Linked DNA regions of Homo sapiens: region 1 is reported to be linked to region 2. Evidence: microRNA targets listed by miRTarBase, many of them from high-throughput screens and not tested one by one. Region 2 holds a microRNA gene; the other region holds the end of a gene's coding sequence.
What was found. Region 2 holds the annotated microRNA hsa-miR-4509 (ACUAAAGGAUAUAGAAGGUUUU, at 1,761-1,782, opposite strand). A microRNA usually pairs through its seed, bases 2 to 8, with sites in the 3' UTR of a target mRNA and lowers its output. Matches are read on the target gene's strand: a 7mer-m8 pairs with bases 2 to 8, a 7mer-A1 pairs with bases 2 to 7 and ends in A, and an 8mer does both.

Region 1: the mRNA of MARCHF6 is a reported target of hsa-miR-4509. Seed matches in the 3' UTR shown: 7mer-A1 at 2,754-2,760.

What each region holds. Positions count from the first base shown.
Region 1 is chr5:10,432,694-10,438,083 of GRCh38, forward strand. MARCHF6 (membrane associated ring-CH-type finger 6) reads left to right here. Exons shown (of 26, transcript NM_005885.4): 26 at 901-5,390. The coding sequence ends at 991. Among named protein-coding and RNA genes, the nearest start is that of ROPN1L-AS1, 6.5 kb to the right of the region's middle.
Region 2 is chr15:28,422,900-28,428,289 of GRCh38, reverse strand. It overlaps MIR4509-2 (microRNA 4509-2), which reads right to left and starts at 1,799; the gene lies at 1,706-1,799.

The DNA.
Region 1 (5,390 bases), not on the chromosome of region 2:
CCTTTGCCATTGCCTTCTCCTTTCATCACATACATAAGTTAGGAACACTTGCCATTCTGTTGTTGAACCATATTCTCCCACCTCCTGTCACTCATACTCACTCACTGCAATGCTGTCTTCCCTTTGACTTCACTGAAATTTCTCCTTTGATTTCTCCTTTCTTCTCTGTAACTAGAACTTCCAGTTTTACTTTCATCCCTTCCTACTTTTTTTTTTTTTTTTTTTTTGAGACGGAGTCACACTCTGTCACCCAGACTGGAGTGCAGTGGCACAATTTCAGTTCACTGCAACCTCTACCTCCCAGGTTTCAGCAGTTCTTCTGCCTCAGCCTCTCTAGTAGCTGGGACCACACACACCCAGCTAATTTTGTATTTTTAGTAGAGATGGGGTTTCACCATGTTGGCCAGGCTGGTCTGAAACTCCTGACCTCAGGTGATCCACTCGCCTCGGCCTCCCTACGTGCTGGGATTACAGGCGTGAGCCACCACGCCCAGCCCCTTCCTAGCTTTCTGATGGTCATGTTTTTAGTCTGTCTCCTTAGATCTGCCCACTAAGTTGTTTTATAAAATCTGAACCTTAACAGATAAATCCACTGCATAAGTTTACTGTATCCCTCCTGGCCTCCACAGGTCTGAGTTTCTGAGACCCCCTAAACCACTGACTGAAGCATGTCCTCCATTGCACAGCATTGGAGGCCTTCCAGCCTGTGCTGCTTCTGCAGCTTCCTACAAACCCATACCTAGGTAGATGTGTCAGCCTTTACAGGTGTTCACTCGGGACTCCCTTTGACTTGCCCAACCATTGACGAGTTTTAAGTAGGAGTTAGATTTAAAAAGACATATGAATGTTTTACTCTGTACATTCATAGAAGAGAGTAACCACCTTGTTTTTGCAACCTAGGTACCTTGTGGGTCAACGACTCGTGAACTACGAACGGAAATCTGGCAAACAAGGCTCATCTCCACCACCTCCACAGTCATCCCAAGAATAAAGTAGTTGTCTCAACAACTTGACCTTCCCCTTTACATGTCCTTTTTTGTGGACTTCTCTCTTTGGAGATTTTTCCCAGTGATCTCTCAGCGTTGTTTTTAAGTTAAATGTATTTGACTTGTGTTCTCAGCATTCAGAGAGCAGCGGTGTAAGATTCTGCTGTTCTCCCTGGATCTTCTGACATTACTGCTGTCTGAGATTTGTATATGTGTAAATACAAGTTCCTTGATACCCTAAAACCTTGGATTAAACAGAATGTGCATTGTACATCTTTAAACAAAATGTATATTAATTTATTAAATCTAGTTGTCACTTTATTTTGGACCTGCTGTGATCTCGACAGGAAACGTGCCACAGAGCAGTAGTGCGCAGGCAAGACTTTTCAGTGACGCCTTGTGGAACGCAGTTCATGATGTCCTAGCAGCTCTCACTAAGGGAACTGTACATTCTTTCTTTCTTGGCTATTCAGACCTTACCAAGAACGTTAAAGGAAACAAGTAGAAATCAGCAGTGGAGTGTCTGTGGTAAGAAAACATGAACTTTATGCTTCACTGTTAGTTGTTTGTGGAAGTTATTTTGTATAACACCAAAGCTGTTGTACATTTCCTACTGCCTGATTTTTTTCATGTGTCTGTGTTTGTAATATTGTATAGTATCTTGTGCTAGGTGAGGAAATTATTTTTAATTTTGATAATTTAATATTCCTAGTGTGATCAGCATTGGGAGTTGGGTTTCAGTGGGGCATGTCTATACTTAGAGAAAAAAAGTCCAAATGAAGATTTTCATGAGTCAGCCCCCCCGCCCGCCCCCACCCCACACCCACATCCTCTCTTTTCCACACACAACTATCTGTTTATTTTTTGTAGCAGTGGCCGAAAGTCCTGCAAGGTCATAAATCTTTCAGAGTGACATCACCAACTGTACTGCATCTTACTGGATTTAGGACTTCTGAGATGCTTGTGAAGTATAGATGTGGTTGTGGTCTTAGATTGACAGCATTAGAGAAGACTGGTTAGAACATCTGGTCTCGCTGGTTAGTGCCTCGTTGGCTGAGGACTAGGTGTGCATTTCTCCTAGCTTTTCATCAGGAAATCCCAAAGTTTCCAAAGCTTTTTGTTTACAGAATAAAACTTCAAATAAAACCAATTCATTATTTGTCCAGAAGGAAGCTTGGCTGAGCTGGCCTTTTAACATAGGAATGTATTTCGTTGGAAACATTCTGAAAAATCTCAGAGAACTGAACCCTTACAAACTTTGTTTTCCCTCATAACCAAAGCTTCAGGTTAGAAGTTTAGAAAAATAGAATGGTTGGGTACATGATCTAAATGTTTAATGCTAAAGGTATATCGTAAGGGTAGTGTTTGTTTTTGAACGATAATTTAGAAGTTCTCATAGAAAGCGTATAACATAGGTCTTCAGAAACTATAAAAGAATTTTCATATAGTATTAAAATCCATAGACTAAAATCTGAGAATTTTTTAACATATGCAAGTCAGCCAAACATAAGCTACCAAAATAAAGAGCAATGTGTTCTGGCTGTTTTATACTTCAACAATTTTTTCCCTAAGTGGTAAGCAATTACTTTAAAACATATTTTTAAAAACATCGGTATCGGGAGCTGCGGTGGCTCCGGCCGGTTGTCCTGGCACACAAGGAGGCGAGGCTATGCGTTCGAGGCCAACCTAGGCAAAATTGGAAAAAAAAAAAAAAATCAGTATCAGAAATAATGCTTGACATAGGATTCAGTGTTATACTCTTTGGCACTTTAGAGCAGCCTTTTCTCTCATTTGAAATAAGGTCTTTGTTAGCCCTACCTTTACTCAGAAATTTAGTCCTACTATAAAAAATTAGGATTTTAAAATATAATGCTGCCTGTCATAGTGTATTTCTAAATTGCTCTCTTTGGGAGAAAAACATTATTATTGAATTGAGCATATAACTATATAACTATATAACTATATATATATATATATATATATATATATATATATATATATATATATATATATATATATTTTTTTTTTTTTTTTTTTTTTTTTTTTTTTGCCCCCGAGACAGAGTCTTACTCTGTTGCCCAGGCTGGAGTGCAGTGGCACGATCCTGGTTCACTGCACCCTCTGCCTCCCAGGTTCAAGCGATTCTCCTGCCTCAGCCTCCCAAGTAGCTGGTACTACAGGTGCGTGCCACCACACCTGGCTTATTTTAGTTATTTTAGTAGAGATAGGGTTTCACCATGTTGGCCAGGCTGGTCTCGGAACTCCTGACTGCAGGTGATCCGTCCTCCTTGGGCTCCCAAAGTGCTGGGATTATAGGTGTGAGCCCCCACGCCTGGCCAACTTGATTATATTAATTTTGGGTTTTTTGTTTTGTTTTGTTTTGTTTTTTAATTTTTCAAAGAATTTGTGGATCTTGGTATAAAGTCATTGGAACATATCTGTTTTAACAGCAAGAGATCCTAGGCAGATACTTCAAAAGGTTAAAAATTCTTAATCCTACAGAATTTTAAATGAATCTTATCAATGTTTTGTAAACAAACAATATGAATGGCCAAAAAATTGCCCTCCATTTTACTGGCAGGTAATTTATATTGTCTTACTTAAGAATTCTCCCCTAGTTTTTCAATTGTACTTTATCGTGTTGTTTTCAATGAGATAAGTATTTTCATAGGGAAAGCATTTTCCAGCATAATATTTGCTTGGGTAGCATCCGGGTTTTAGTATTTAACCAAGAGCCTTTTAAATATTGAAAACCCATAGTTCAGAAAATGTTAGTATTGCTGCCCTTCTTCACATAAATTTTTTTTTAAATTATACTATTATTTTGCTTAATTTTATATTGGGTTAAAACAACCTTCAAGAAGGTTAACTAGGAAAGAAGACCTTTTTGTTTTATTTTTACTATTTATATATAGAAGACAAATCAGCATTTGGTGATAGTTTTACATGACCAGTTATCAAACGGTCATAGTATGAAGTGTGCAGTTGTTCATTATTAGTAAATTATGTTTGATTTTTAAACTATTTAGTACTAATAGTTGAGATGAAAACTGAAGAAAAATGCCAATGTGACGTTTGTGTATAGCTAGCCTTAAAAAACTTCCCATGTTTTTAGGTGACTTTTTTCCCCCTCTTAGTACTCTGGAGAAACAATGAAGATGGGCCATCTCAATTCCAGATGTAAACAAAAAGTAATTTTTATTTCAACATTTAATGTAACTGCTATTATTGTGGATTCTTGTCTTGTGTATTTTCTTTCCCTTATTCAAGTAATATAGAATAACTTTCCTTAAAATGATTTGATCCAAGATACGTCATTTCTGTATTGGCAAAATGCCACTATTAAAGTGTAATTCTTGAATTTAGGTTGAATTGATGACTTTTTAAAACAAAACAAACACTGGACAGTTCTACATTGTATTGCGTTTGCGAATGTGCGTGAACACACGCACACGTGCAGGAGAATGTAGTGCCATAAGAACACTGGCGCTTTTTAAAACTTTCCAAGCTAGCTACTTATTTTCATTTTCAGGGTTGAGTACTCTAAGCTCTCTACTTACTGTGAGAAGTTTTCTACATTGTAAAATTAAAAGATTATATTTAAAATACTTCTTTAGGATGTTATTCAGCCATCAAAAAAAAACCCAACTAAAATGTCTTACCAGTAAAGTATTATTAAAAGCCTCATTTGTGGAGATTCGCTGACTTCCTTGGTTAAGCTGTCTTGTATTTACTTAATTTGTCCCCTCAACCAGGTGTTTTCTTTTCAGCCTGTTACTGTCCTGTGCCATTTTTAAAAATAGCCATCATGAGTAAGGGCTTCTTTAAAATAATCCCTGACAATATCTTTGGCATTAATACGACATAAAGACAAGACAGTATATGTATGTTTTCATTCCTGTTTTGTACGAGTGCCTCATTTTGTAGTCATGAAAGTAACATAGTACCTTAAATAAAAATGTAATGACTAATCTAAGGTCTAGGAATAACTATTGTAGAAGCTAAGTAGAACACTTAGTTTGGGGTGTCAATTTTCTATCAACGCAAACACCTTAGGGTACCCAGACCAATTTTATGTATATATATTCTGAAATGCTCCCTTTTTAATGTGGTCATTTGTTGCCTTCTAAGTTGAGAGGACAAAACTGAATAAAGTGAATGTTAATTGTAGTCTAGTTTTTTTGTTTGTTTTTGTGTTATTGCAAGATTGCTTTAAGATTGCAGAAATATGCATTATTAGCCAGCATAGATAATCCAGATGTTATAATAGGAAGGAAAAACAACTCCAGTTAAATGTGACTGTGGCGACTCCCTTTTATGTATACATTTAAATGCATAGTTGCAGAGGACACATCCCTCCCCTTCTGTCTCCCTAACTTGAACTGTAGACCGTCCTCACTGGGA
Region 2 (5,390 bases):
TTGTATGTAGGAAGTAACTAACTTGCTTTTAGTTTTACAGGCTCATAGGTGGAAGGGACTTGTCTCAGATGAGACCTTGGACTGTGGACTTTTCAGTTAATGTTGAAACGAGTTAAAACTTTGGGGGACTGTTGGGAAGGCATGATTGATTTTGAAATGTGAGAACATGAGATTCAGGAGGCGCCAGGGGAAGAATGATATGGTTTGGCTATGTCCCTACCCAAATCTCATCTTGAATTGTAGCTCCCATAATCCCCATATGTCATGAAAGGGACCCAGTGGGAGGTAACTGAATCATGGGGATGGGTTTCTCCCTGTGTTGTTCTTGTGAAACCGAATAAGTCTCACAAGATCTGATGGTTTTATAAAGGGGAGTTCCCCTGCACATGCTCTCTCTCTTGCCTGCCACCATGTAAGACATGTCTTTGCTCCTCCTTTGCCTTCTGCCATGATTGTGAGGCTTCCCCAGCCACGTGGAACTGAGTCCATTAAACCTTTTTTTCTTTATAAATTACCCAGTCTCAGGTATTTCTTCATAGCAGTATGAAAGTGGACTAACACAGTATCAAACCCTGGTTTGGGGTAATAATCACTACCTTCTAGGTAACCAGAATGGAAAAAAATAACAGAAAAAAAATCCTAAAAATCATCCTGCGTACAAGAAAAATGAAACTGTATGCTGAATTCTCAGGGGGAGAAAACGTATTTAAAAATATATGACTTTCAAACCACAAGAAACTATAGAACATTGCTTTAAACTATTTGTCTATGAACAGTATGTAGAAACACATGGAATTTAGGAAATAGGAGATGAAGGCTACAATAACAAAAGAGGCTCATATCACAAAATGGGAGATAGCTGAGATGAGGCTTCTATGAAAACTAAAGTGCAAGGGCAGATTTTCCATCCACAGGGAAATCCGTGGAGAAAGAAACTGACACACTGAAAAGTTCAAGCAGCAATTGAATCAGAGCTCTGGAGGGCAAAAGAAGAGATGAACTAATGACAGAGAAGAAGGCGGATGGGTATGCCAGAGACCACAGGTTCCACCTCGAGAATAGTTTGTGTACTAGGGAAAGACACAAGGGCAAGGAGATCTGAAACAATAATCAAAGCTATCACTGAAGTACGAATAATAAAAGCACCAACCAGTTTCTAGGCAGGGAGGGGGAAGAAACAAGGAAGAGTTCTCCATATTTAAATAACAACTAGCCAAACTCCTGAATTTTACAAATAAAGAAAAAAACTTCCTTAAAAATAAAAAGTCAGGCTTAGATAAGACTTTTTTTCTTCTCTGTTAACATTATTAGAAGACATAAAGATTTTAAGAGAATAAAAATATGATCAAGAGGATCATAAATATCAGGTTGTCTTTACCTGAGTACGAAGCAATGGCATCTGTATATCCAGCACTGATTTGTCCTTCCAATAAAAATTTACTCAAAGACATATGGGTACATATTAGAAAAATAATCAAAATTAATATTTCAAGGATTAGGAAGTTGTGAAGCCAAAATCCTGCAAGGGGACAATTGATTCAGTTAATGGAAAGATTTATTTTTCATATTTTATGATTATTTACCAAAATAATATTTTTAAAGTATAATTATAAAATAAAAATAAAATATTTAACAATACTATAATTATAATCATGTTCCAAGTTATAAAACAAGATAGTGAGAATTGTCAGTAAGATAGTAAGAATTCTAATACTATCTCAAAATAAAGGATACAGAAGGTTTCAGGGCAAGAGAAAGGGAAAACCTTCTATATCCTTTAGTTTGAGATAGTATTAAAGCTTTCTGTAGGCTCACTCAAAATGTCCGGATTCTGACCACATTTGAATATGAGCACTCCCAACCTGACGATTCCTAGTCTAAGCCACACATATTTCCTCTTATGGTTATTGCAAAAGCTCCCTAACTGGTCTCCCAGCTTCTGCCGTTGATTCCTTTCAGCTATTTTTTACACAAGTGCCAGAGAAATCTCAGAAATGCAATTCAGATGATATCACTTCTTTGCTTATATCTTTCAATGTTGTTCCCCTCTACGTGTTCATGTATTCTCCCCTTTGACTCTCGCTTCTAAGTGGGAACATTTGGTTTTCTGTTCCTGCATTAGTTGGCTAAGGATAATGGCTTCCAGCTCCATCCATGTTCCTACAAAGGGCGTGATCTCATCTTTTATGGTGGCATAATATGCCATGGTGTATATATACCACATTTTCTTTATCCAGTCTACCATTGATGGGCATTTATGTTGATTCCATGCCTTTGCTACTGTGAATAGCGCTGCAATAAACATATGCATGCATGTGTCTTTATGACAGAACAATTTATATTCCTTTGGGTGTATACCCAGTAATAGGATTGCCGGGTCGAATGGTAGTTCTTTTAGGTGTTTGAGGAATCACCACACTGTCTTCCACAATGGCTGAACTAATTTACACTCCCACCAACAGTGTAGAAATGTTGCCTTTTCTCCACAATATTGCCAACATGTTATTTTTTGGCTTTTTAATAATAACCATTCTGAATGGTGTGAGATAGTATCTCATTGTACTTCTGATGTGCATTTCTTTAATGACCAGTGATGCTGAGCTTTTTTTCTATGTTTGTTGGCTGCATGTATGTCTTATTTTGAAAAGGAGGGTGAAAGCTGGGAGGAGGGAGAGGATCAGGAAAAACAACTAGTGGGTAGCAGGTTTACCATGTGGGTAACAGAATAATCCGTACAACAAACCCCCATGACACAAGTTTACCTACATAACAAACCTGCACGTGTACCACTGAACTTAAAAGTTAAATTTAAAAAATAAAAAATAAAAAAATCTTTCAATGGTCCCATGTCAGTTTGAGGAACAGCCAAAGTCCTTAAAATGACTTACAAGGTGCTCGTTCCATCATCCGTCTTCTCATGTTTATTTCTCTGCCACCATCTACTAATACTCTTCCCCCTTCTCATTCTACTCCAGCTATAATGGCTTCCTCGATGCTGTTCTAAGAATAAGTCCACATGATTCCAACTCAGGGCTTTTGCCCAAGCTGTGGTCTCTCTTTGGAATGCTCTTCTTTCAGCAGAGCACGATTCCTCCTCATTTCCTTCAAGTCTGTCCCCAAATGCCTTCTACCTGGTGTGTAATTGTCATGTGTGGCAGTTTTAAACATAGTCCAAAAACAGGTTGATATTCTTCTCATCAAAAAATAGGTCTATGTCTCCCTTCCCTAAATCTGGACGTGCTTGTGACTGCTACAATCAATAGAGTATGACAAATAATTCTACCTGACCTTTAAAGTGAGATAAAAAGAGACCAGGCATTTTCCACCTGGTTCCCTTGGAGTGTTTGATCTGCGGAAAGCCAGCAGCCATATAAGAAGTTTACCCTGTGCAGGCCGGGCGCGGTGGCTCAGGCCTGTAATCCCAGCACTTTGGGAGGCCAAGGCGGGTGGATCACGAGGTCAGGAGATCGAGACCATCCTGGCTAACACGGTGAAACCCAGTCTCTACTAAAAATACAAAAAATTAGCCGGGCCTGGTGGTGGGCGCCCGTAGTCCCAGCTACTCGGGAGGCTGAGGCAGGAGAATGGCGTGAACCCGGGAGGCGGAGTTTGCAGTTAGCCGAGATCGGGTCACACCACTCCAGCCTGGGGGACAGTGAGACTCCGTCTCAAAAAAAAAAAAAAAAGTTTACTCTGTGCAGGCACTATAACTAAGAGTCCTTCCCATCTGAGCCTTGCCTTCCAGACAACTCCATCAATTTATAAGACAGAAAAAAAGCACCTTGCACCTTCCAGACTGACTTGTTTGCCAGCCGACTAGCACTGAGTCACCCTAGTTAATGATGTGAGAGAGGAAGAATCACTCAGATGAATCCTGCTGGAATTTCTCACCTATAGGATCCATGAGATATAATGAAGTGGTCGTTGTTTTACCTTATTAAATTTAGGGTAGTTTCTTTTTTCTTTTTTTAAATTTTTTTTTTTTTGAGACGGAGTCTCCCTCTGTCGCCCAGGCTGGACTGCAGTGGCGCGATCTCGGCTCACAGCAAGCTCCGCCTCCCGGGTTCACGCCATTCTCCTGCCTCAGCCTCCCGAGTAGCTGGGACTTAAGGCGCCCACCACCACCAGGCCAGGCTAACTTTTGTATTTTTAGTAGAGACAGAGTTTCACCGTATTAGGCAGGATGGTCTCGATCTCCTGAACTCATGATCCGCCCGTCTCAGCCTCCCAAACTGCTGGGATTACAGGCGTGAGCCACGGCGCCCAGGCCATTTGGGTTAGTTTCTTAAGCAGCAATAGTAACTGTAACACTGACTCACTTCTACTGCCACCAATCACTATCCACTTTTCCTGATTCACTTCTTCCTATGTACCGTCTTTTAAAAAACAAATAATTAGGCCGGGCTAAGTGGCTCACGCCTGTAATCCCAGCACTTTGGGAGGCTGAGGCGGGCGGATCACGAGGTCAGGAAATCGAGACCATCCTGGCTAACACGGTGAAACTCTGTCTCCACTAAAAATACAAAAAAGTAGCTGGGCGTGGTGGTGGGTGCCTGCAGTCCCAGCTACTCGGGAGGCTGAGGCAGGAGAATGGCGTGAACCCAGGAGGCGGAGCTTGCAGTGAGCCCAGATGGCGCCACTGCACTCCAGCCTGGGCGACAGAGCGAGACTCCGTCTCAAAAAAAAATAAAAATAAAAAATAAATAAAAAAAGATTTTTAATATATATATACGAGAATATGTGAAACAGTATGTTTTCAAGTTTCCATTGAATATTTTAAAAATAGATTATATAAAACCTCAACATATTTTTTAAAATAAAAACCACACAGGTCACATTACCTACTCAAAATTTAATTACATTAGAAATTAAGACAAAGTTAAAACAGGACAACCAGCACCCCTAGTATCACCCTCCTCAGAGTATTTAAAAATAGATTCCTTTAAATTATCTCTTGTTTTACAAGAATAAAATCTAATCAATTATTAGAAAGATAATCTCAAACTGAACTCAAAAGAAGAAGCAAAGCATCTTCAAAGTCAATAAGGGTGCTATAAATGCTTCTTGGACTCTGAAACTCTCTGACTTCCCATTCTACTCTCAGTTGTAGAAAACTCCCTGATTGTGAAGTTTTGGTGTGATTAGGTTAGGTTTACCCAGATACTCCCCCCGTCTTAAGGCTGACGGATTATTAGCCTTAGTGACATGTGCAAGACTCCTTTGCCGTGTGAGGTATCAACAGGGTAACATGAGGAAATGAAGGTCATAGGGGCTATCTTAGACTTCTTCCTGCTACAACCTCTATTCACTTATTTTGAAACCTCAGAGTTTGATGAGCTCCTACTATGTTCTAGGTCCTTGCAATAGGAGTACAGCAGTGAACAAGACAA